Regions from separate parts of the Homo sapiens genome. Here region 2 is linked to region 1. Evidence: fine-mapped expression QTL. Tissue or cell type: tibial nerve. Region 1 holds a variant in brackets; the other region holds the start of a gene. All regions are shown on one strand. Distances are from middle to middle.

What was found. PIP is the estimated chance that this variant, and not a neighbour inherited with it, causes the effect.
Region 2: it holds the start of FRMD1, and the variant in region 1 is fine-mapped to the expression of FRMD1 in tibial nerve (GTEx, PIP 0.91).

Annotation. Positions count from the first base shown.
Region 1 is chr6:168,002,812-168,009,988 of GRCh38, forward strand. It overlaps KIF25 (kinesin family member 25), which reads left to right. Exons shown (of 13, transcript NM_030615.4): 4 at 803-892. Among named protein-coding and RNA genes, the nearest start is that of KIF25, 8.7 kb to the left of the region's middle. RefSeq lists an enhancer at 4,313-5,512. The variant G/T (reference allele first, on the strand shown) is at 3,374.
Region 2 is chr6:168,075,853-168,081,843 of GRCh38, forward strand. FRMD1 (FERM domain containing 1) reads right to left here and starts at 3,360. Exons shown (of 11, transcript NM_024919.6): 1 at 3,030-3,360. The coding sequence starts at 3,242. RefSeq lists an enhancer at 2,351-3,072.

The DNA of each region.
Region 1 (7,177 bases):
TGAGCTTATTTTCCTGTAACTAGAGGGTCCTATCTAGCAGTGATGGAGACAGTGACAGGTCATCAGGCATCAGAGTCTCATAAGGAGTGTGCAACCTGCATCCCTCACATGCACAGCTCACAGTAGGGTTTGTGCTCCCAAGAGAATCTAATGCTGCTGCTGGTCTGACAGGAGGTGGAGCTCAGGCAGTGATGCCAGTGATAGGGAGCGGCTGTAATTCAGAGAAGCTTTGCTCACTTGCGCACCGCTCACCTCCTGCTGTGCAGCCTGGTTTCTAACAGGCCTCCATGGCCAGGGATTTGGGACCCTTGTTCTGTATCACCACCGCTCTAAACTGCGCATGAAGGAGATATTTAAGCGTTCTTACTGGAGTATGGATGACTCTCCCATGCAATGCAGACAGGGAAGATGAAAACAAGAAATAAAGAACAGGGGTATTGGAGTAAAAAAATCAAGAGAAGACAAAAGGGGGTGGGGAAGAGAAGAAAATAATACATAAAAAGTAAAGAGTAAAAAAAATAAAAAGCATAAGGTCCAAAAGGACGAGTGGAGTTTTAGAAAAGGATGGAAGGGTGGATCCATGCACACAGGAAGAGGAGGAAGAGGAGCCAAGCCAGTGTCCTGGGAGACCAGGACAGAGACAGAGATGATGGCAGAGAAGCAGAGGGGTGTTTTAGAGTGACCAGGACAGAGACAGAGATGATGGCGAAGAAACACAAGGGTGTTTTAGAGGCTGAATGTTAGGAATTCAGAAAGCAATTTCTTCATGATGTGTATTTTCAATGTTGTTTCATTCCCTCAGCTCCATCTCTAGAGAAGCGGCCCATGCTGTTGATGACCTGAGTCTACAAGTTTCCTCACAAATTGTATTCAGAGAGCAGCTTCCTGCTTGGTGGGTGTCCGTAGTCCCCACAGATCCCTACAATGGAGAGCAACTCAGAGACTGAATAAATAGAAAATAATTTATTTTAGGCTTTCTTAGTTAAGAAGAGTTGTTTTTGTTCCTTGATTTCTATTGGAACATGAAATTAAGCATTTGACATGCTTTCCTTGTGGGAAACCAGCTCCTGACCCGTAGTTCTATGTGAGGAAGTTACTTCACTTCCATTTATTTTCCAGCCCAAATGATCAATCAGTGCAAATATGAGCAAGTTCTAAAATTTAGAGCACCAGGAAAAGAGATATAAATATAAAATCAGTGATATCATGGGTGAACTTTGTGATTCTAAACTGGAATCAAGCATGATTTTGTTTCTCCTGAAAGCCTCCTTGCTTTTTAGTTTTATCCACGAAAAGGCCGAGAAGTCAGAAGGAGCAGCCCAACACCCCAGGGGTGTCTGAGTACCAAGCCCACTGCAGGAGAAAAGCTCATTTGACACCTCGCATCTGGGCCAGGAAAGGAAGTGGGTGGGAGGAGCCTGGGGCACTTGGGGAGCTGAACAGCAAGGGAGGCCTCAGAACAGAACGGGGGCTGTCCCAGCACATGGAGCCCACGGCAGGCACTCCCTCAACGCGGGATAGAAGCCTGGGGATTAAGGAGGGACTAAAGCAGATTGAAATATATAATTATATGTACAATCTTGAGTTCATAATAATGAGTTTTTAAAAAGACCTCACATTAATTTTTTGGGTGCTAGAACATCAACTCATTATTCCAAAAAGTGATAGAAAGAGAAAAGGGTTGTGATGTCCTTCCTGTAGGAAACATACTCAGGGCAGATGCATGGTTTTTGAGGGAACAGAAGATTCTAGGTAATAAACTCAACAAATGATAAAACTGGAAAACCATCATTTGAAACCCCCAATGAAATGGTGACTCTAGGCCCTCAGAGGATGCTGGTCAGGGGTTGATGGGATCGTCACGATGAGGGTTCAGGGTTGCCTCAAACCCTCTAAGCACTTTCTCCTGAGTGGACGCTGCTCAGGGGTTGATAGGATCTTCACGACGAGGGTTCAGGGTTGCCTCAAACCCTCTAAGCACTCGCAGCTTCCCTGAAGTTGGGATGCAGAGACATGATGTCCCGAGGTGGTGCAGCAGGTGGGACACAGTGGGACTGATGAAGCACTTTTGCTTCAAAATCAAACCAGCATCTAATCAAGTCTTGGGGACAGTCATTTTAAAGGAGAGAAAACCATCTGCCAAGCCAGAATGCGGACATTTCACAGAACAGACTGCCTGGCTTCTCTAGTAATAACTTTTGTTTTTAAAGGCAGGAGGACACAGTAGAATGAGACGTGTCAGCCTCAGTGTGTCCTGGTTTGGAGCCTGGTGTGCACGAGCCACCTGTCACAGGCGAGCTTGGCGTGCACGAGCCGACTGTCACAGGCAAGCCTGGCATGCACGAGCTGACTGTCACAGGCATTGTTGGGACAGTGGGGGAAGTCCGAATGTGTCCTGGGTATATAGGGGGGCAAACCTTCTCCTCTATCCTCCTAGGGTCCCTGGTGGAGCCTGAGAATGGAATTGGCCTAAGGCAGGTTGACGGGGAAGAGCATCGGATTTGTTGAATGTGGGGTCTACCTGACACAGAGCCCCCCGGAAAATGAAGAGTTGAGGAGTGGCACAGCCTGCACGCTGCCCTGCGGGGTTGGGCAGAGGCCACTGTGGACAAGCAACCAAATGAGATGGGAGACAGAGGGAAGGCGAGGGCTGTGCTAACAGGTCTGTCTGTGCAGAGCTGCTCAGCTTCGACCCTGTATTAGCCAGGGATCTCTAGAGGGACAGAACGAATGGAATAGATACATATGTAGAGGAGAGTTTATTAGGTATTAACTCACACGATCACAAGGTCCCACAACAGCCATCTGCACGCTGAGGAGCAAGGAGAGCCAGTCCGAGATCCAAAGCTGAAGAACTTGGAGTCCGATGTTCGAGGGTAGGAAGCATCCAGCACGGGAGAAGGATGTAGGCTGGGAGGCTAGGCCAGTCTCTCTCTTCACATTTTTCTGCCTGCTTTATATTTGCTGGCGGCTGATTAGACGGTGCCCACCCAGATTAAGGGCGGGTCTGCCTTTCTCACCCCACTGACTCCAATGTTAATTTCCTTTGGCAACAGCCTCACAGCCACACCCAAGATCAATACTTTGTATCCTTTAATCCGCTGATCAAGTTGACGCTCGGTATTAACCATCACAGACCCCATCTACTGACGAGAACATGCTTTGTTCCTGGCCCAGCAAGGGCGGCTCTCATGGGAGGGTCAGGTCCTGCCTTCAGTGCAGGAGGAAGAGGGGAAGCTGGAGTGCTCTGCATGAGCCTCCTGCTTCTCAGGAACCTTTAAGTAAAGATAATCCTGATGCCAAAGTGGCATATTTTGGGGTGACATGTTCTGCCACTCTCCATGTGACATTAATTTTGTAAAGTGTGATGAAT[G/T]GCATGGTGATTGTATTCTATTTCTTTTTTTTTTTTTTAGCGATGGGGGGGTCTCACTATGTTGCCCAGGCTAGTCTTGAACTCCTGGCTTATGTGATCCTCCTGCTTTGGCCTCCCAAAGTGCTAGGATTGTAGGCGTGAGCCACCACACCGGGCAAATTGTGCTTTAAAAGTGTTCTTATCATTTAAAAATGCAGCCTGTAATACTCAGCAATACAACGATCTGTTGTCTGGTTTTGAATGTACAGTATGCTGAGGAAAGGGAGGTGGGTTTTGCAGGAGTGTCTGTGAAACAAGACTGGCCGGATATTCCACACTTGTGGCACCGGGCGATTGCACCTGAGGACGTCTTGTGCTGTTTCCCCCATTTCTGTGTACGTTACAAAGTCCCCAGTGAGAACAGTTAAAAAAATGCTGGGCCTCTCCTTCATTCAGCTTATTATGGTGATCACAAGATGAATTTAGAAAGCACATGAAATGCTAAACACTTCACTAACATTGATAATTTTGAATTCAGGAAAATCTCAGGTCATGTAGGACACAATGGCCATTTTGAAGATGATTTTGTGTCACGTTGATTACCATATGCGGTTCTACAAGGCCCGTCACCTGAATCAGTCTGATGATGGTTACGTATTGTAAACTTTAGAAACTCTTTTTCAAAAGGTAGTTTTAGTTAACGGACTGATAGCCTTATACTTTTTAAAAAGGCCAAGAAAATTGTTATAGCCATACTTTAAAATTGCTCTTACTATGTCCCCAGAAAGAAAAACTTTTACAATTCTTTATTTTAAAGTATTATTGATTGATTGATTGATTCAGCTTTATTTAGGTAAAATCGACAAAAATTGTATACATTCGACATCTACAACATGATAATTTAATATACAGATGTATATGATTACCATCCATCTTTGGATGACACATGTGGTAATCAGTTTTACAACTGAGCATGGTGGCTCACACTTGTAATCCTAGCACTTTGGGAGGCCAAGGCAGATGGATCACCTGAGGCCAGGAGTTCGACACCAGCCTGGCCAACATGGTGAAACCCTGTCTCTACTAAAAATACAAAAAATTAGCTGGGCGTGGTGGTGGGCGCCTGTAGTCCCAGCTACTTGGGAGGCTGAGGTAGGAGATCGCTTGAATCCGGGAGGCAGAGGCTGCAGTGAGCTGAGATTGAATCATTGCACTCCAGCCTGGGCAACAAGAATGAGACTCCATCTCAAAACAAAAACAAAAACAAACACAAAACCATACAATCAGTAAAATGATTACCACAGTCAATGGTAATGACTACCAGGATGGCTAAAGAGTAGAAAGGGGGATTTTATCAGTGATATCAGTTTGCAAACTGAGAAGAGACAGTCTCCAGCTCTCTCTGTTAAAAGGTGAACTCCAGGACACACAGTTTGTGCACAGTCTGTATAAGCTGGCCGAAAATAGCTGGAGGTCTGCAGCTGCTTCTCAGGAAAGAATTGTGCAAGGCTGATCCTCTGCCTAATCAGGGTTGCGGTGGTCTGGGTTGTGAATCAGAGTTAGGGATTTTCCTGATGGCTCCCGTTGTTAGGGAGTTTAGCAAGAGTGTGGTTTTTCTTGTAGCCACAGGAATTTAGGAAGCTGTCAGGCAGCCAAGCCCTGAACCTCTGACTCATAGGTACCTTTTATTTCCTTAATCTTAGGATCCATCTTAGTTGATAAAGAAGCATCTATTGGTCTCTCAGATCACATTTCCCTGTTGTGGTCAGTCATAGCTTGGATTTCTGTGGGCCCACAGGCCCTACTGCATCACTCTTATCTTAAATGGCCTGAGAGAGAACTTCATGGATTTGTTGTTCTTTCCTTTAATAGAACATTCTCTTTAGTTTACTTTATGGATTTGGCCTACCTTATGAAGGAATACTGTATGGATTTGGCCTACCTTATGAAAGAATTTCTTCCTTGAAGCCAAAAGAGATTCCCATAAAACCTTTTCCTGAAGCATTTCCTCTGTGTTTTCTTCCAGTAGTTTAATCACTTTGTGTCTCACATTTAGGCCTTTGATCCATTTTGAGTTGATTTCTGTATAGTGTAAGAGGTGGGGGTCTAGTTTCATTCTTCTGTATATGGATTTCCAGTTTTCCTAGTACCATTTATTGAAGAGACCATCCTTTCCTCAATGAGTGTTCTTGACATCTTTGTTAAAAAATCAGTTGACTATAGATATGTTGGTTAATTTCTGGGTTCTCTATTCTGTTCCACTGGTCTATGTGTTTGTTTCTATGCCAGTACCATGCTATTTTGGTTACTATAGCTTTGTAATATATTTTGAGAGCAGGTAGTGTGATTCCTCCAGCTTTGTTCTTTTTTCTCAGCATTTCTTTGGCCTTTTGGAATCTTTTGTGGTTCCATACAAATTTTACAATTTTTTCAATTTCTGTGAAAAATGTCATTGGTATTTTGATAAGGATTGCATTGAATCTCTAGATTGCTTTGGGTTGTATTGTCATTTTAACAATTTTAATTCTTCCAATTCTTGAGCATGAGATGTCTTTCCATTTGTTTGCATCCTCTTCAATTTCTTTCATTAGTGTTTTCTAATTACCCTTTTAGAGGTTTCTCACCTCCTTGGTTAAATTTATTCCTAGGTATTTTAAATTTTTTGCAGCTATTGTATATAAATGGGAGTGCCTTTTAAATTTATTTTTCATTTAGTTCATTGCTCATATATAGAAACAATACTGATTTTTTCATATTAATTTTGTATCCTGCAACTTTACCGAAGTTGTCGATCAGTTCTAAGAGATTTTTGGTAGAGTCTTTAGGATTTTCTATATATCAGATCATGTTATCTTCAAGCAGGAACAATTTGACTTCCTTCTGTATGATTTGGATGCTCTTTATTTCTTTCTTTTGCCTAATTGCTATGACTAGGACTTCCAATACCATATTGATAAGAGTGGTGAGACTTGGCATCCTTGTCTTATTCCAGTCCTTAAAGAAAAAGCTGAAAGATGTTAGGATGTTAGCTGTGGGTTTGTTATATATTGTCTTTATTATATTGAGGTTGTTTTTTTCTATACCTAATTTATTAAGAGTTGTTTTTTTTTATCATGAAAGGATGTTGAATATTTTGAAAAGCTTTTTCTGCATCTTTGGAGATGATCACATGATTTTTGTCCTTCATTCTGTAGATGTGACCCAATTTGTTTAGTGATTTGCATATTTTGAACTGTCCTCACATTTTGGGATAAATCCCACTTCATCATGGTGTATTATCTTTTTGATGTGCTGTTCAATGCAGTTTGCTAGTACTTTGCTGAGAATTTTTGTAACTATGTTCATCAGGAATGTTGGCCTATAGTTTTTTGTTATTGTTTTGTCATTGTCTGGTTTTGGTATCCCGGTTATGCTGGCCTTGTAGAATGAGTTAGCAAGAATTCCCCCTGCTTCAGTTTTTTTTGCAATAGTTTCAGAAGAATTCGTATTAATTATTCTTTAAAGGTTTGGTCGAATTTAGTAGTGAAGCCTTCTGGTCCTAGACTTTTCTTCATTAGAAGACTTTATTACTGACTTGGTCTCATTACTTGTTATTGGTCTGTTCAGATTTTTAATTTCTTTTTTGTTCAATCTTGGTAGATTATATGTATCCAGGAATTTATCTGTTTCTTCTAGGTTTTTGAATTTATTGGCATATGGTTGTTTATAGTAGTTCTGGATGATCCTTTGTATTTTTGTGGTAGCCGTTGTGATATCTCTTTTTCTGTTTCTGATTTTATTTGGGTCTTCCTTCTTTTTTCTGTTAGTCTGGCTAATGGTTTGTTG
Region 2 (5,991 bases), 72 kb after region 1:
GTGTCCACATTTCCGGTGCCCGGTGTCCACATTTCCGGCGTCCCGTGTCCACATTTCCGGTGCCCGGTGTCCACATTTCCGGTGCCCGGTGTCCACATTTCCGGTGTCCCGTGTCCGCATTTCCGGCGTCTCGCATGTGACACTACTTCACGCCTGTTCAGCCCCGGCATGGATGGGATTGGCGGGCATCCCCTGCAGAGCTCTTCCTGAGTCCTGTCTGTTGCAGCGCTGGGGCCCATCCCTGGTCACCGGGCAGCAGAGGCAGCGTTCTCAGGCAGAATCGCAGGGCGCCAAGCCTGTGACGGAGGGTGCAGGACGGTTGCCGTGCGCTCTGCTCTCAGACTCTCCCGAGGACCCTCACTTGGGGCTCCAAGAGGAAACCTCACAGCAGGGCACAGCTGGGGCAGCTGGATCTGCAGGAGGCCATTTTGCGATTCTTCATTTGCATGTTTCAAGTCAAATGAGTATCCAGCTTACTAATCCTGAGTTAATCCTGAGTTACTGTAAGACTGACTTCCTTATTGATATGGTTTGGCTGTGTCCCCACCCAAATCGCATCTTGAATTGTAGTTCTCATAATCTTCCTGTGCTGTGAGAGTGAGCCGGTGGGAGGTGACTGAATCACGGGGGTGGTTCCCCCATCCAGTTCTCATGATAGTGAGAGAGTTCTCATGAGATCTGATGGTTTTATAAGGCACTTCCCCCTTCGCTGGGCACTCATTCTCTCTCCTGCCACCCTGTGAAGAGGTGCCTTCTGCCATGACTGTAAGTTTCCTGAGGCCTCCCCAGCCATGTGGAACTGTGAGTCAATTAAACCTCTTTCCTTTATAAATTACCAAGTCTTGGGTATGTCTTTATTAGCAGCGTGAGAACAGACTAATATGATTATTGTCTGCTTAACTTGGTGAGGGGCAGGCCCCACAATGACGGTAACACAGATCTTCAGTGAGGGTCTTCCCAGCCCATCCCTTTCGAATAACTGGGCTTGACACATATTTGGTTGAATACAGGGTTCCTGTCTAACTGCAGACACAGGTGTGCACACACTCCAATAGAGCGTTCCCTGTCTAACTACAGATACACACGAGTATACACCCCAATAGAGGGTTCCTGTCCAACTGTAGATACGGATGCGTGCACACCCCAACAGAGGGTTCCTGTCCAACTGCAGACACAGATGCATGCACACCCCAACAGAGGGTTCCTCTCCTACTGCAGACTCAGATGCATGCACACCCCAACAGAGGGTTGCTGTCCTACTGCAGACAGAGATGTGTGCACACACCAACAGAGGGTTCCTCTCCTACTGCAGACACAGATGCATGCACATCTGATAGAGGGTTCCTCTCCTACTGCAGACACAGATGTGTGCACACCTCAATAGGGGGTTTCTGTCCAACTGCAGACACAGATGTGCACACACTCCGATGGGGGGGGGTTCTTGTCTAACTGCAGACATAGACGACTGCAAACCCCAATGAGGGGTTCCTGTCCAACTGCAGACACAGATGTGCACACACCCTGTGGGGGGGTTCCTGTCTAACTGCAGACATAGATGACTGCACAACCCAGTGAGGGGTTCCTGTCCAACTGCAGACACAGATGTGCACACACCCTGTGGGGGGGTTCCTGTCTAACTGCAGACATAGATGACTGCACAACCCAGTGAGGGGTTCCTGTCCAACTGCAGACACAGATGTGCGCACACCCCGATAGGAAGTGGCTCTGTGGTTGCCAACTTGCCAGGCCCAGCAGGGGCCACAGGAGTTGCAGAGGCACTTCAGGGAGCTCCGTCAAAAGCAGATGAGCACGATTCACCTGTTCAGAACAGGCGGTTCACTATGTTCTAGCTGCATGATCCCTCAGTTAAAATCTTACCGTGAAGTTCCGTGCAAGAAACCTAAAAGTTCCAGCTCTTATGGGGTAGGGGGCCAAAGCCCCAGCATCTTCCCCACAACAGGTCCTCTTATGACCCCTCCCCCAGCCCGAGGCACTGCTGGGGACCCCAGGAAACTACAGGACATCCCCCATTAGCTCAACTCCAGCTTCTCGTTGCTGGGTGGGGACACAGAGTCTTGGGGAAGATTTTGCCACAAACATAGATGTGGGCGTTTACGTAAACACAGAACTCTATCCCGAAGCAGACAAGAGACTCCCAGATTCCCAGGGGACTTGAACCAGGATATTACTAGCAAGTCATACTCCATTCCAGGTAGCAATGATACATTAGCTATGCAGAAAGTCATCGTTCTTCAACAAACCACTCTCATTTTAATTGCCACATTTTCATTATCCACATTAATCATTAAAATGAAAGTACCATCTCAACTCCTGTCGCCATGAACTCAACTAAAACAGGTAGACAAAATGGGGGAAAGGGAAAAGAAAAGGAAATAGAGAAGCATAGAGATGGTGACGTCTGAACACAAGACAGGAGCTGCTCCTTGGAAACCGGCTTCCTGGCGCTCTTCCCTCAGCGCTCCCTCCCGGGAAGGATGTGCTGAACCATAAACTTATTTCTCACAGCAACGTCTATCAGGGATGTTTCCTTCACAGGCCCAGTGAAAGGGCTGGCCCTTGACACCTCACAGACACCTGGCCTAAGCAGAGTGAGGCGGTCCAGGGACTTTCCATACACAGGCTGTGTCCTGAGGCTCTGCTCACCCCATACCCCTGCTCACCCCCACGGCCCTGCTCACCCCCACGGCTCTGCTCACCCTCACAGCCCTGCTCACCCCCACGGCTCTGCTCACCCTCACGGCCCTGCTCACCCCCACAGCCTTGCTCACCCCCACGGCCACCCAGGGCCCTGCTCACCCCCATGGCTCTGCTCACCCCCACAGCCCTGCTCACCCCTATGGCCACCCAGGGCCCTCCTCACCCCCATGGCTCTGTTTACTCCCAAGGCCATCCAGGGCCCTGCTCACCCCCACGGCCACCCAGGGCCCTGCTCACCCCCACGGCCACCCGGAGCCCTGCTCACCCCCACAGCTCTGTTTACCCCCACGGCCACCCAGGGCCCTGCTCACCCCCACGGCCAGCCGCAGTTGCTCCCGGCTGGGCAGCAGCACGAGGACATCCCTGTGTTCCGAGGCCATCGCGTCCATTCCCAGGGTCGGCTCCTGCTGACTGCATGCAGGCCTCTCAGGACTGGGTTCCATACATCGCGCCCCTGAAGGAGGGAACGTGTCAGGGTTTGTCCGGGCGGGGTCTATGCCCCTCCCTCTCGGGGGCACCGCCATGCTGTCGTTACTCGGCCCTCCCCCGCCATGGGTCGCAGGTGGGTGCTCAGCACCTCCCAGATCACAGCTGTGCTTTCCGGGACCCGCCCTTGCCGAGCTTCTCACTGGGAAGGGAATTGAGAGGGAAGCCTGGGCTGGGAATCCAGCATGGCCAAGCCAGGACAAGGGTCAGAGCTGCAAATAGCTGGGTGTGTGGAGGGCGCCAGGAATGCAAATAAACAACCTCAGGCTGGGCACCCGCCATGCAGCACTCCCATGCAGGGTAGCTCAGCAGCCAGCCTCGGTGTGGGCCCCGTGAGAACCAGGCTGGGGGAGACAGGACCCAACTCCTCCACCTGACAACCCCTATCTCCTCAGGGTGCCTGCTCCTTCTTCTATAATGTGGAGAGGGCTATGCAAACCCCATGGGCACAGATGCCAGAGCCAGGGCTGCTGGGGAAGATGGAGCAGCAGCAGGGCAGGACGAGGAGGGCGGGAGGAAGGCAGCCTGGGTGGGCACCCTGCCCCACACACCTCCTGTGGCATCTGTTATCGACCTCAGGAAGCAGCACAGCTGCCGTTCCTGGACAGGTTCTGCCAGGAGGGACCCTGGCTCCCTTTAGGGGCTGGAAACTGAGGACACTTCCTTCCTTGTCCAGGGCCAGCAAATCCCTTCCTGCCTGCAGCAGCTGGAAGGCCAGGAAGGGGGTCCTGGCTTGCGTGGACAGCAGCCGGGTGCATCAGCACGAGGGGTGGGGACATCTCCCGCAGGGCCTGGAACCCCTGAGGCCGCTCAGCAGAGATGAGCAACGCCTTCGAGCTCTTTGGCACAGTGTTAGGTGGGGAAGGGACCCCAGGATCCTGCCTGGCCCTGGGACCACCCAGACCTTTGGGCGCTGCAGGTCAGGAGAGGCAGTTCCCACGGGCCTGGGCTGTGGAATTCTGTCCTCAGCCGTGAGCTCCATCAGTTTCCTGCCATGGAGTCTGGGATGCTCTGGGACCTTCCTCTAGTAAGGGGTCTGGACCTCCGGACGGGCCGTTGTTCATCTTAGGAAATTCGCACTCCAGCCGCCTTAAGGCCTGGCCCGGTGGGTTTAGGAAATTCGCACTCCAGCCGCCCTAAGGCCCGGCCCGGTGGGTTGAGAAGATTTAGGAGGCTTAGGCCTCACCTCCCCCGGACCCTGGACTGACACTGGCTCCCTCCCTCCCTCCCTCCGCTCAGATCCAGACCCTTCCCAGACCCTCGAGGCCACACATGTGTGCCCAAGACAGCAGTGGCGGTCTCTTTTCTCTCCACAGCAAACGTAGAGCTGTTCACTATGGAAGATGTGGGGATCCCTTTAGCTGAGAGCACAAAAAGTTTTAAAAATGGCAAAAAAACCACAAAAAAAAACAGCCCCAGAGAGCAGAGGCTGGATCCTCATGGCCCTGTGCCACTGGCGCCTGAGCAGCTCGTCCCTGTGCCGGGTGCCCTCAGCCGCTGCCTGGAGTCACAGTGCCGGCGTATCAGGAAGGGCGGCAGCAGCTGCACCTCTCAGGATGCCTGGGCGCAGGACAGTGGCAGAGGGCAGGCAGGGGCCAGGGTTGGGGGGTGGCAGAACACCACCGGCACACACAGCACAGAGGGGACAACAGGCACCAGGACCCCTCGGTGGGGAGAGCCGGGGACACGGTGGGGAGTTGTGCTGGGTGCACTAATGATCAAAGCGATGGTTCCCCACGTGTGTGCAGGTGCTGGTGTGTGCGGGCGCTGGTTTGTGCGGGCGCTGGTGTGTGTGGGCGCTGGTGTGTGCGGGTGCTGGTGTGTGTGGGCGCTGGTGTGTGTGGGCGCTGGTGTGTACAGGTGACCGTGGGCCAATGAGCTCCAAACATCATTAGTGAGAAGAAAAGGAAAAGGAATGGAAACTCCACATTTGTATTGATAAACACAATAAATGGATTCTTGTCAAAGCAGGACGTCCCTGGCCCCAGCTCCTTCCTTCCCACCCAGAGTCTCAGGGCCACACCGTTGAGGTTCAGACCTCCAGTGAAGGCCGCCGTCCATCTGAGTGCCAGGGAGAGCTGGGCTTGGGAAGCCCCCGTTGTATTCCTGGGAGAGCGCGGCTTTTTCCTGAAAACGTGCTGAGGCTCCAAGGCAAGGGTGGTCGCCATGAGTACCTCCCGCCAGGGCACTGAGGGGACACCAGAACCTCTGTCCTCAGCTCATCAAGAAGACAACTTTGCACCCTGAGAAGGCAGAGGCGTGACCGGGCCCCAACACTGACCCCACCTCTGAATGTCTTGTCTTCTCGACTGGCCTGTTCGTGATGGAAGAGGCTGGCCTGCCACGTTCGTGATGTCAGGGCCGGGCAGTGGACGGGCAGAGGCCGCGAGGAAGAGGAGACCACCGCCCAGATCTCCTCATGGCTGAGCCCTGGAGTCCTCCTCGGCCCAACTCTCTCTTCTTCTGGACGGCTGGTTTCCATCCTCTATCATGAGATAGATAGAGGCCTGCTGAGAACATTCTAGAACTCAAGCTTCGGAGCTCTAGGTCCACAAAGCACAGGTTTTGGAAAACAATGTGGGAATGCTGTTCCGTGGTGAGAAGGAAGGCAGAACTGACACAGGCACAGGACTAAACATCCCACTGCAAGGGAGAAGCTGGATGCAAAAGGCCGGGCTCCATTCCGAGACATCCAGCAAAGGCAGCATCTTCGGGGCCAGGGAGCTGGCAGCAGGGACTGCAGAGGGGCGAGGTGTCCTCTGGGGGTGGTCGGATGGCAGTGATGGC